Linked DNA regions of Homo sapiens. The protein of the gene in region 3 purifies or fractionates together with the protein of the main gene of each other region. This does not show direct contact. Each region holds a gene or a part of one and is shown on either strand. Other genes may lie near its edges.

Region 1 (3,754 bases), on a different chromosome or scaffold from region 3:
CAAGGGCTTTGATGTGAAACAGTCGTTTAGTATACAGTATGATTGTTTAATTCTCATGTGTACTTTTTTTTTCTTTTTGAGACAGGGTCTCACTGTGCCACCTAGGCTGGAGTGCAGTGGCACAATCATGGCTCACCTTAGCCTCAACCTCTCGGGCTCAGGTGATCCTCCCACCTTAGCCTCCCAAGTAGCTGGGACTACAGGCACGTGCCACTCGCCTGGCTAATTTTTGTATTTTTTGTAGAGATGGGGTTTTGCCGTGTTGCCCAGGCTGGTCTTGAACTCCTGGGCTTAAGCCTGCATTGGCCTCCCAAAGTGCTAGGATTGCAGGCATGAGCCACTGTGCCTAGCCTCGTATACTTTTTAAAAACATTTTTAAATGTTTCCAAAATTGGAGTGTAAATTAATACGTATATTCAGTTTCGGCATTCTCTATGGTACCATCCCTCTACCCCCATCTTTTCCCCTCCACCTTAAAAACCAGTGATTGTGTTAGTGATGTATATTACAATCAATGATATCATGGAATTAAGGGCATGTAGTTATGACATCAGAAGTACTAGACTGTATTTATGCTGGTACTAAGTGGTTTGAAGAATAATTTGAAGTCAGAATTTAGGATGCCAAAGCATTATGCTCATAAATCATCGTTCCATTTTCTGAAATGTAGTACTTTGGAAATATAATTCAAAGTGTGATATTCTTACAGCTAAATTGACCTTGACTATTCAACGTCCATATATAGTTTATATGCTACAAGATCTTGATATTCTTGAAGACTGGACAACAATTAGGAAGGTATGATTAATGAGCAGTGGAACACAAGTATGTTTTTATAGTCTACTTTTTAAGATTCTATGTTTTTTTTGTTAGTACATCAAAATATTATTGTAAATATGCTTTGCTTTTGCAACATTTTTCTAAGGCAATTTAATACTATTACAGATAGCAGTGAACTACAAGGATATTTTAAGAGTTAGAGACATGTCAGCAGTTTGATTGTATTTTTTCTATAATAATGTAACTAATAATTTATGGAAAAGTCCAAAAAACATTTATTTAGTCTGCCCAAAAATAATAACATCACCATCTGTGCCTAGTCCTTTGGCTGGTCCTGGCTTATAGAAAACACTTGATAAATATTTGTTGAACAAAAGAACATTTGAACCCTTATGTGTCTTGCATCCTATCATTAAACATTCAAGAATCATAGGCTTTTCTTTTCTTGCCTGAAAGTGGAGGCTTGTTTTCCATATTACATTTTTTCATTTTTGTAAATTTCTTAGTTGAGAATTAGAGATTATTTCAGGTATTGAAAACACCTCTAGGAGAAATTGTTATCCCTCATATTCTTTATGGTCTTAGACATTAAAAATTTGTTAGAGCAGCTAATGGTTATACTTTACTGTCTTTGTTATGGAGTTAATCGGTAATATTGTATATATTAAATAGATACCAAAATATATTTTCAGTCTGAACTCAGACTTCTTTCTTCCTCTTTTTTTTTTTTTTTAATTAAGGCAATGGCTACATTGGGGCCACACAGAGTGAAAACGGAACGTAAGTCATTTAGTCTGAGTTGGGAAATATTCTCTTTGGAGACTTGTTGAATCAGGGTTGTTATCTACGTACTAAAGAACTCTTGAATCAGTGGTTTTATTTCATCAGTGAACACCGTGCCTGAAATTATGAGGAATTCTTCTGGAGTCATTGCTTCACGTAAAAGTTTCAAAATTTCTGAATGTGGTATAATTATTTCAGTGTTCAGCTACATTCTTATTGCTAATAATGGATCAGTAACTCAAAAAAGTATTTATGCAGTGTTTTTTATGGGCTCTGTCATTCTATAGGGGAGGTATTTGGAATTTGTGGATTGGCTTCAGAGATTCTGTGAATCCTCTGAAATTATGTGCAAAATTCTGCATGTGCATTTTCTGAGGAGAGAGATCAGAATGCTGATATGCCTTAGTAAAATTCATATCAAGTTACACTTCCTTGATTTTTTTTTTGGAAGTCTAAAATCACTGCCAAAATGTGATGGTGTTTAGGATAAGTTTCTCTGTTTCTGCCTTCTTTCACTATAGGTGAGATTTCCTAATCCTTCTAAGGACAATGAAGCTAGACTAAAAAGAAAAACATATTTGAAATACTTAGGAAAGGAATTTCTAGTCACATTTAAACAGCTTAAGTAATCGATAAGAGACCAATTTCTGTTTAGGCTGGGCATGGTGGCTCATGCCTAGCATGATCCCAGCAATTTGGGACGCTAAGGCAGGAGGATCACTTGAGCCCAGGAGTTTGAGATCTGCCTGGGCAAGATGGCAAGACCCCATCTCTACAAAAAAATACAAAAATTAGCCAGGCTTGGCGGTGTGTACTTGTAGTCTCAGCCTCTTGGGAGGCTGAGGTGGGAGGATCACCTGAGCCCTGGAGGTCGAGGCTCCAGTGAGCCATGATCACACCACTACACTGGGCAACAGAGCAGGATTCCATCTCTAAGAAAAAAAAAATTGCATTTTATTTTTAACCCCATGATTCCTTTAAACTTTTTATTTTGTGAGGAAATTGCAGCAGTATTTGCCCTGGGGAATTAACTGCCAGAGCAGCTGCCTAGACCTGTAGAGCAGTGGTTCTTAACATTTTTGGGTAATAGATTCCTTTTGAGAATCTCATTATCATAGTTGAGTGTGTCTCCCTCCCACTCTTATCTTCAGCATTGTATCCTATTAGTTTTACTCATAGCACTTCACTCAATTTGTACTTTTTAATTTTGTCTATCTCCTGACTGGATTGTAAGCTCCACAAAGGCTAGAACCATATCTCTTTTGGTCACAGTTTTTTCCCCAGCATACTTCCTTGTGTATAGGAAGTGTTCAGACAACATTTGTTGAATGAATGAATGAATGAATGAATGAATATACCCGATGGTATTTTAGGCCCTGAGAATACAATGGTAAAAGAAATATGGATCTCCTGGAGCCTCTTTAGGGGAGGTGGAATCATATATATGTAGATAAACAGTTAAGAAGATAGTTACAGATTATAATAATTACTCTAAAAGAACTGTGCAGTTGATATAACAATTAGCTGAGGAGTGGGTAGAGTAGTTAGGGAAGACCTCTCAGGAGCTGACATTTGAATGACTTCATGGTATGCTTTTGACACTGTGTTTCCATAAAAAAGATTTTTTTTTCCTGTATGAGTTATCTGACTAATGCCAGATGATTTCTGGAATTTAAAAATAGAAGTTGTACTTAGGACATTTCCTTTTTAGAATTAAAAGCCTGGGGAATGCTTGGAACATGTATTAAACTCTGCTTCTTTCGGTATATCAGATGCCCGCAGGGGAAAAAATAAAAAGTATAATTTTCAATTGAAATATGGCAATTGATATTTTAAATACTACTTAAAATTCACACTAGTAATTGATAACATACCTGCTTCCCCTTCTGGTACTTAATTAGTCAATTGATGATTTATTGTTCATTGTTTAGCTTTGTTTAGTAGTTATATTAAAAACTTAGTGATTATGTAAAAGAATGTAAGGAATAAATCTTTTTATTACATTTTAGGTTTGTTATTTAAGAAATATTTTTAGGCCTTTTTTACATATGCATGGATTGATGTTAATTGTTAATGTTCTGACCCTTTGTTCTTCTGACAGTGTTTTATTAATATAACAGTTTTTGAACTGATCCCTTTAGCACCTGTGAAACTGGAAAAACATCTGCACAGTGCTAGATCTGAAGAGGGA
Region 2 (3,235 bases), on a different chromosome or scaffold from region 3:
GTGGTGGATTGAGACCTTTCACAGAAATGTCACTCTAGTGTCCAATGTGGGGACTAGGTGAAATTGAACTAACAATTGATCTGAATTCTGTTATTAAAGATGACTTTTAAGGCAACTATACATCTGATTGTTTTATTCTGAGAAATGATACCTATAGCCATTAAAGTCTGATTGAATGCCATTTTCTTATTTAAATGAACACATCCTACATTATGGTCAAGACTGCATACATCATAGAGAAAGTATATTGCAAAGAAAAGTGATGCTTGGGTGGGCTGCTTTGGGCTATCATCCAGATTCCATGGGGTAGTTTTCCCTTCTAATGGGAATAGTTGGGTGTAGATGTTTGAGAAATACTAGATGATGTGATTGCATGATGGGAAAACGCTTTTGTGCTTTAAACTGTGTTGGCTGGGTGTGTGGGGCTCATGCCTGTAACCCAAGCACTTTGGGAGGCCGAGGAGGGTGGATCACCTGAGGTCAGGAGTTCGAGACCAGCCTGACCAATATGGTGAAAACCTGTCTCTACTAAAAATACAAATAAATAAATAAATTAGCTGGGGGTGGTGGCTTGCGCCTATAGTCCCAGCTGCTCAGGAGGCTGAGACAGGAGAATTGCTTGAACACAGGAGGCGGAGGCTGCAGTGAGCAGAGATCCTACCACTGCACTCCAGCCTGGGTGACAGAGTGAGACTCCATCTCAAATGAAAAAAAAAAAAGGTATCCTCTAAGCCTAATGAAATAGAAAGTTTCATCATTACCGTTTCATTCTTTTGCTTTAGAATATTACACAGGCTTTGTTACTTACCCAGGACAAGCCATAATTTCTCTGAGACTCAGTTTTCTTATCTGTAAAGTGAGAAGAGTAAGATCTATTTCACAGAGTAGGGATTAAATGATAAAGTGTATGTAGAAGAACTTTAAACACTGAGTAGTGCCTGCTGTCTGTAAGGCATTATTACAAAACTACCACAGAGAGGGATAACATTTGTTCACATCAGTTACACTTTTGTACATTTTAGATCTCTCGAGAGGAGGATGCTTCTGCCCATGAGAGACTCTTGAAGATATTAATTAAGCTCACAGATTTCTACTTTGTGTTTAGTGTTCAGGAAGTCCCCTTGAAATCACTTTTACTTTACTTTGACTTCAGTAGGAAGATAGTTCATAATGACACCATCAAAGTAAGTTTTAAGCGTTTCGGGCCTGCTTTTCTCAGGTTTGAGTTTTTATAGTTTGTAATGATTTTTTTAGTAAAATAAGCATATGATTAAAAGTTTTATATTAACTACTACAACTTTTAAGTATCAGTTGCTTCTACATAACCACTATATTTACTGTTCTGAACAATACATACTTCAAAGCACATGAAATTGAAAAAGCAAAGCATCTTTACTCTCTTCATAGAGAACAGAAAAAAATATTAAACTTTTAAGCATTATAAAATACTTTATTGAATAAAATGTTAGCAAGTCAGCAATTGATGAATAATTTGCTTTGAAACTTTAACTTGTAATCTGGCTAATTAGCACTAATTTACAAACTATTCTACATTGTAAAGGAGAAATGAATTTCTGGTGTTGTCCTTCTTTGATTTAGAAGCTTAACATCTGCAGGACCTAATTGGCCATTGATGTGAGGGTGAGGAAGAAGGAACCACATCGCAGGGAGAAAAGACTAAAGGAAGGCAGAGGCTCTAATATCAGGTCAATATAGGTCAGCACACTACCCACATGAAATGGCTTTGGCTGGGTTCCAAGGTCAAGTAAATAAGATCAATTTTTTCATTCCTTCAATTACATATTTTTTTGCTAAGCTTCGGTCATTCATGGTATACAATGCATCTAACTTGCTGAGCAAAATGCTAGACATGAAATAAATGTTAGCTATGGTAGAAGAGCTTCAGTAACAGGTAACCTGAAACAGGCTGATAGCTCATAGAAGGGCATGCTTGAATTCGGGGAAAAAAAAAAATCTCTGTTAAAATGGGATGCAAAACACTTTATACATTGCTTTTACAAAAGTTAGACTAATTTAAAGGAAAGTCTTCAAAAGCAATCCGTGATCGATAAAATTACAGAAAAAAATCAGGAAAGGGGGAAATAATAAGGGAAGAAAGATTAGCAGAACAATCTTCCGCCCCAGTAAAGAGGACTGAATTTTAACCAATGAGATCACAAGTTTGAAAATTTCCTTTTCAGGCCCAATCAAGAGGAGGCTATGTCTATAAATACGACTGCCTAGACCCTCTCGTATCAATGAGACAGCATGGCCCGTACTAAGCAGACTGCCCGCAAGTCGACCGGCGGCAAGGCCCCGAGGAAGCAGCTGGCTACCAAAGCGGCCCGCAAGAGCGCGCCGGCCACGGGCGGGGTGAAGAAGCCGCACCGCTACCGGCCCGGCACCGTGGCTCTGCGGGAGATCCGGCGCTATCAGAAGTCTACGGAGCTGCTGATCCGCAAGCTGCCCTTCCAGCGGCTGGTACGCGAGATCGCGCAGGAGTTTAAGACGGACCTGCGCTTCCAGAGCTCGGCCGTGATGGCGCTGCAGGAGGCCAGAGAGGCCTACCTGGTGGGGCTGTTCGAAGACACGAACCTGTGCGCCATCCATGCCAAGCGCGTGACCATCATGCCCAAGGACATCCAGTTGGTCAGCCGCATCCGCGGGGAGCGGGCCTAAGGTATATTTTTAAGTGGTCGATCTAAAGGCTCTTTTCAGAGCCACTGCCGTTTTCATCAAGAGCAGCTGTACCGGCTCTCCATCTGATGTGCGTCTGCCTTGCGCAGCGGTCAGGGGCCAGGGGCACTCGTGGTGGGTGACGTTACAGAACCCAAAGCCCAGCCGTGAGTTGGCCGGCAGTAGAGAAAGCCGCAGAGGCATGGTCCTTGTGGTTCCGGCCGAGCCTTTTCACGCTGGTTTAAGGCTAGAGGTCCGGCTCCCAATTCTGTGGGTAAAGTTTTGCATGGGGGCAAGAGACTATGGGGAGTTTCTAGATGTGGAAGATCCTGAGTGTAAGGGTGGGGCGAGTCCCTTAAAAATTATAAACTCGTTTCCTGGTTTATTTAGGAACTATAAGCTTAATTAAAGCTCAGCATCTTCCTCATTGCATACTACAGGCGGTGTCCAAGCCAGAATAGTAATTTAAGCGGGCGGGAGTAAATATCTGGCGATTTTTAAAAATGTGTGGGTGAGGTAGTATTTCAAGGAAGAGAAAAAAATTTCCACAAAGTATAGA
Region 3 (3,754 bases):
AAAGAACAGCTTTTATTTGAGTGGCTTGGGAATAGGGTGTTTTTATTTTTTCAAACTTAATTATGCATCTAACTCATACATAGAGGTTAAAACAAAACAAAAAAGCAAAGCAAAACATGCTCAGGCCTAACTCCTAGAGATTCTGATTCAATGTATATTTGGGATAGAGTCTCTACATTAATTATTTTTTTTTTCAGTTGCACTTGCAGTTCTGATTTGCAGCCAAGACTGAGAACCACTGGAGTAGGATAGAGTGAAAATGGGATGAGGAAGTGTTAGGACATGACACTAGGACCAGATGGTGAAAGGAAATGGTATGCAAATACAATATAACAAACTCTCTTCCCTGACAACTTCATTCTTTTGAAATATTTTCTTTTTCATTTTTTTTTTACTGCCACTACTTTTGCATGAAAGAATACGAATCCCACCATTGTAAAAACAGAGATAAATGTTTAAAACCTTTGTAACTAAAAGACCTCTGTTTTGCTTGAGGTATTAAGCTGGTGCAAAAGTAATTGTGGTCTTTGTCAATGGCAAAAACCGCAATTACCTTTGCACCAATCTAATGATATTTAACATAAACAAACTCAGGGCAGAGTGCACCTTCTGATTGGGTGTACCATCTACCGCTCGGGGCTCTTTAACAAATGACCAAAGAAAACATGAATTTTGACATAACTGGTGCTAGGGTTATTGAAGGGTGGGTTTCCATTCTGGGTTAGTGCTCCCAGTCTCTAGTCAAGCACAAGAACATGCCTACCCCAGAGGGCTCTTCCAAATTCCCAGCTATCTGAGATTATGAGACAAAGGTTCTTTAGCGCCTACCAAATGAGCAACAATGAAGATAAAAGGGACCTCTCCTTCCATCATAACCAGTTCCCCAGGAAGCACCATTTCTCTTACTCTTGGAAGGTCGGATATTTTTTCCCTTTACCATACACTGGCCTTCCATGTCCTAACTGCTATTTTCAAATAAATGAACGTTATATTCTTGGAGGACAGATCAGGGATGCTAAACTGCACCTTTATCATGATTTTAGGGATGAGCGCCTTTTACTTAAGTCCTGCTAGTGGCACATATTTTAAAAGGCCATAGAGGACATCCGTGTTGTCAACACAAGTGAAGGCGCTCGGAAGAGTGTTGGTCAGCAAGAATCAGCACAAAGACATTGGAGGAGAGACAACAGCTTGTTTCTGGAAACAAATGAACAACAAAAAAACACTAAAACATCTCGAGGGGGCCCCTGACTTGAGCCCTGCATGGGAAAAGCTGCCAAGAGCTAGCATGACAAGGGACTGGCCCTGGGCTGCGGTGAGGAAACCCAGCGTCCTGACCACACTGCTGGGTCAGCGAGGCGTCCCTCAGAGACCGGAAACGCGGACTTCAGCTCGCTTGGGAAACGGCTTCCATTAGCAGAAGGGAGACTGCGGTTTAGTCCCGAGGTCGCTCCAGCAGCCCGGCCTCACGCGACCCACCATTCCCGCCGCCCCCTCACGGTGCCCGCCGTTCCCGCCGCCCGGCTTTCTAACCGGGCCCCTAGTTCCCCGCCCCGTGCCCTCTGGAGACCTGCAGCTCCTGCCGCCCTGCGCCCGCTCCCAGGGCCCGTCGTTCCGCCGCCCTATCCCTCCTCAAGGGGCCCCTAGCTGCCTCCTCGCGACCCTTTCCGGACTCGGCCTGCCCACTCCTGCCCGCTAACCCGCCTGGCTCCCGGGCGAGAGCCCTCGCGCGGCTCTGGTTCCTGTTCCTCTAACGCCGCCGGGGCTGCGGGATGCCGACTCCGCGGACCGCCCAGACCCGGAACTGCTGAGGCAGCAGCGGGCTCGCGGCGCTTGGCTCATCCCGGGATTCCCCAGCTCTCGCGCTGGGCCCGCCGCGTTCGCACCAAGCACGCCAGGCGGCCCTGGCCTACCTCCCTCCCGCCTCCCGGCAGCTGGCACGAGGGAACCTGGCCGTCAGGTTTCCCCTGGGATCCTGGGACGGTATCAGGCGGGGAATCTGTGCGGCCGCGGCGAGGTAGGTGAGGTGAGGCGGGGCGAGGTGGGCGAGGGGGGCGAGGTGAGGCGGGGCGAGGCGGGGCGAGGCGAGGCGGGGCGAGGTGGGCGAGGTGGGCGAGGTGAGGCGGGGCGGGTGTCGTCGCGCTGGGCCGAGCTTACGACTCCAGCTGACCCGCTCGCGGCTGCCCAATTTCGTTGAGGCTCAGGACGAGGGACGGGGCGGCAAATTGTCACAGAGGTCGCCGTAGACCGGTGTGCAACCGAAGGTGAAGAGCGGGAAGGCGAGGACCGAATCGCCTCTGGTGTGCGTTGTCCGACAGGAAGTCCCGAATGGGCTGTGAGCCGCCGGTGGAGGTGCCCGGGCAGGTGCAGAGCCACAGCCTGCGCCCCGTGAGCCGAGGCGGGTAGGAGGAACAGGGACCTGGCGGCGACACACGTTGGGCGGAAATTCACAATGAACAGGGAAGGGGGGACGGTCACCCACTCAAAACTGGCTAAATGAACCTCAGAGGGAGCCCCGAGAGATGGGGAGCAAAGGTTAGGGGAAGCGGCAGGAGAAAACCTTCTTGGGGCAAAGGGCGTCACCAAAGGGGGTCACCGGAGCCCCGCAGGTTGGGGTGGGAGGGCTGGGCTGGAGGTGAGCAAAGCTGCACGGGGAGAATGAATTAAGAAAGTTGAGAGGAAGCCTGTCTCATCCAAATCACTATAGCTTTTGTGGTCATTGCTAAGTGTGGAGTACTGCGCAAATCCTGAAGGGAACTCTATTAGCCATCTCAGCTTTTATCATCTTAAAACGCGAATTTCGCGTGCAGCTCCATTTAGCTTCGTAAACTTAAGCCCCCGCATATGAAAGGATGAGACCTAATATGACAATCATGTCAGGACTAATGATATATCACACAGGTTGACACTCTGCAATTTAAAAACAGGACTTTGTCTAAACTCCACAAGTAATTCCTTACTCAAAAGTTCTGTGTAAACAAAACAGAGGAACTGTCGTGCTGCTGGAAAGATGTACCAGCATTTTCACAAAACGAATTAAAAGATGGCTTTGCTTTCACTGTCATGGTTCTGTTGTGACAGAGTAGACTGGCTTTTCTGGGAGGGGCCTAGATTTACTATTTTAGTTACATTTTAAAATCAGTGTAATTACTTCGTTTTTAATCTACCACAAATTTCTGTTGTAACTATAAGATTTATATAATCTTATATTCTTACACTAATTTTTATTTGCAGGTGATTTATTTGGCATAAAAGTATTCTTTCAAGGATGGCAGAAGCTGTTTTGATTGATCTTTTTGGTTTGAAATTGAACTCTCAAAAAAACTGCCATCAGACATTACTGAAGACTTTGAATGCTGTCCAATACCACCATGCTGCCAAGGCCAAGTTTCTCTGTATAATGTGTTGCAGTAACATCAGCTATGAAAGGGATGGAGAACAAGATAATTGTGAAATAGAAACAAGCAATGGATTATCAGCTCTCTTGGAAGAATTTGAGATTGTTAGCTGTCCCAGCATGGCTGCCACTTTGTATACCATTAAACAGAAAATTGATGAAAAAAATCTGAGCAGCATTAAGGTAATTGTACCCAGGCACAGGAAGACATTAATGAAAGCTTTTATTGATCAACTCTTCACTGATGTTTACAATTTTGAATTTGAAGATTTGCAAGTGACTTTTAGGGGAGGGCTTTTTAAACAGTCCATTGAAATAAACGTAATCACAGCTCAAGAACTAAGAGGAATTCAGAAT

The links.
Region 1: the proteins of LACC1 (region 3) and BRMS1L purify together in Homo sapiens (affinity purification with mass spectrometry; 3 studies listed by BioGRID and IntAct, with this or other methods). This does not show direct contact.
Region 2: the proteins of LACC1 (region 3) and H3-7 purify together in Homo sapiens (affinity purification with mass spectrometry; 3 studies listed by BioGRID and IntAct, with this or other methods). This does not show direct contact.

What each region holds. Positions count from the first base shown.
Region 1 is NC_000014.9:35,864,202-35,867,955, forward strand, and holds part of BRMS1L (breast cancer metastasis-suppressor 1-like protein), read left to right. Parts: intron 1-733; coding exon 734-798; intron 799-1,520; coding exon 1,521-1,560; intron 1,561-3,683; coding exon of another isoform or gene 3,684-3,704; coding exon 3,705-3,754. UniProt on the Homo sapiens protein: Involved in the histone deacetylase (HDAC1)-dependent transcriptional repression activity. When overexpressed in lung cancer cell line that lacks p53/TP53 expression, inhibits cell growth.
Region 2 is NC_000001.11:143,905,000-143,908,234, reverse strand, and holds H3-7 (histone H3-7), read left to right. Parts: upstream 1-2,257; 5' UTR 2,258-2,268; coding exon 2,269-2,679; 3' UTR 2,680-2,725; downstream 2,726-3,235. UniProt on the Homo sapiens protein: Core component of nucleosome. Nucleosomes wrap and compact DNA into chromatin, limiting DNA accessibility to the cellular machineries which require DNA as a template.
Region 3 is NC_000013.11:43,877,718-43,881,471, forward strand, and holds the start of LACC1 (purine nucleoside phosphorylase LACC1), read left to right. Parts: upstream 1-2,186; 5' UTR 2,187-2,402; exon of another isoform or gene 2,403-2,535; intron 2,536-3,234; 5' UTR 3,235-3,268; coding exon 3,269-3,754. UniProt on the Homo sapiens protein: Purine nucleoside enzyme that catalyzes the phosphorolysis of adenosine, guanosine and inosine nucleosides, yielding D-ribose 1-phosphate and the respective free bases, adenine, guanine and hypoxanthine.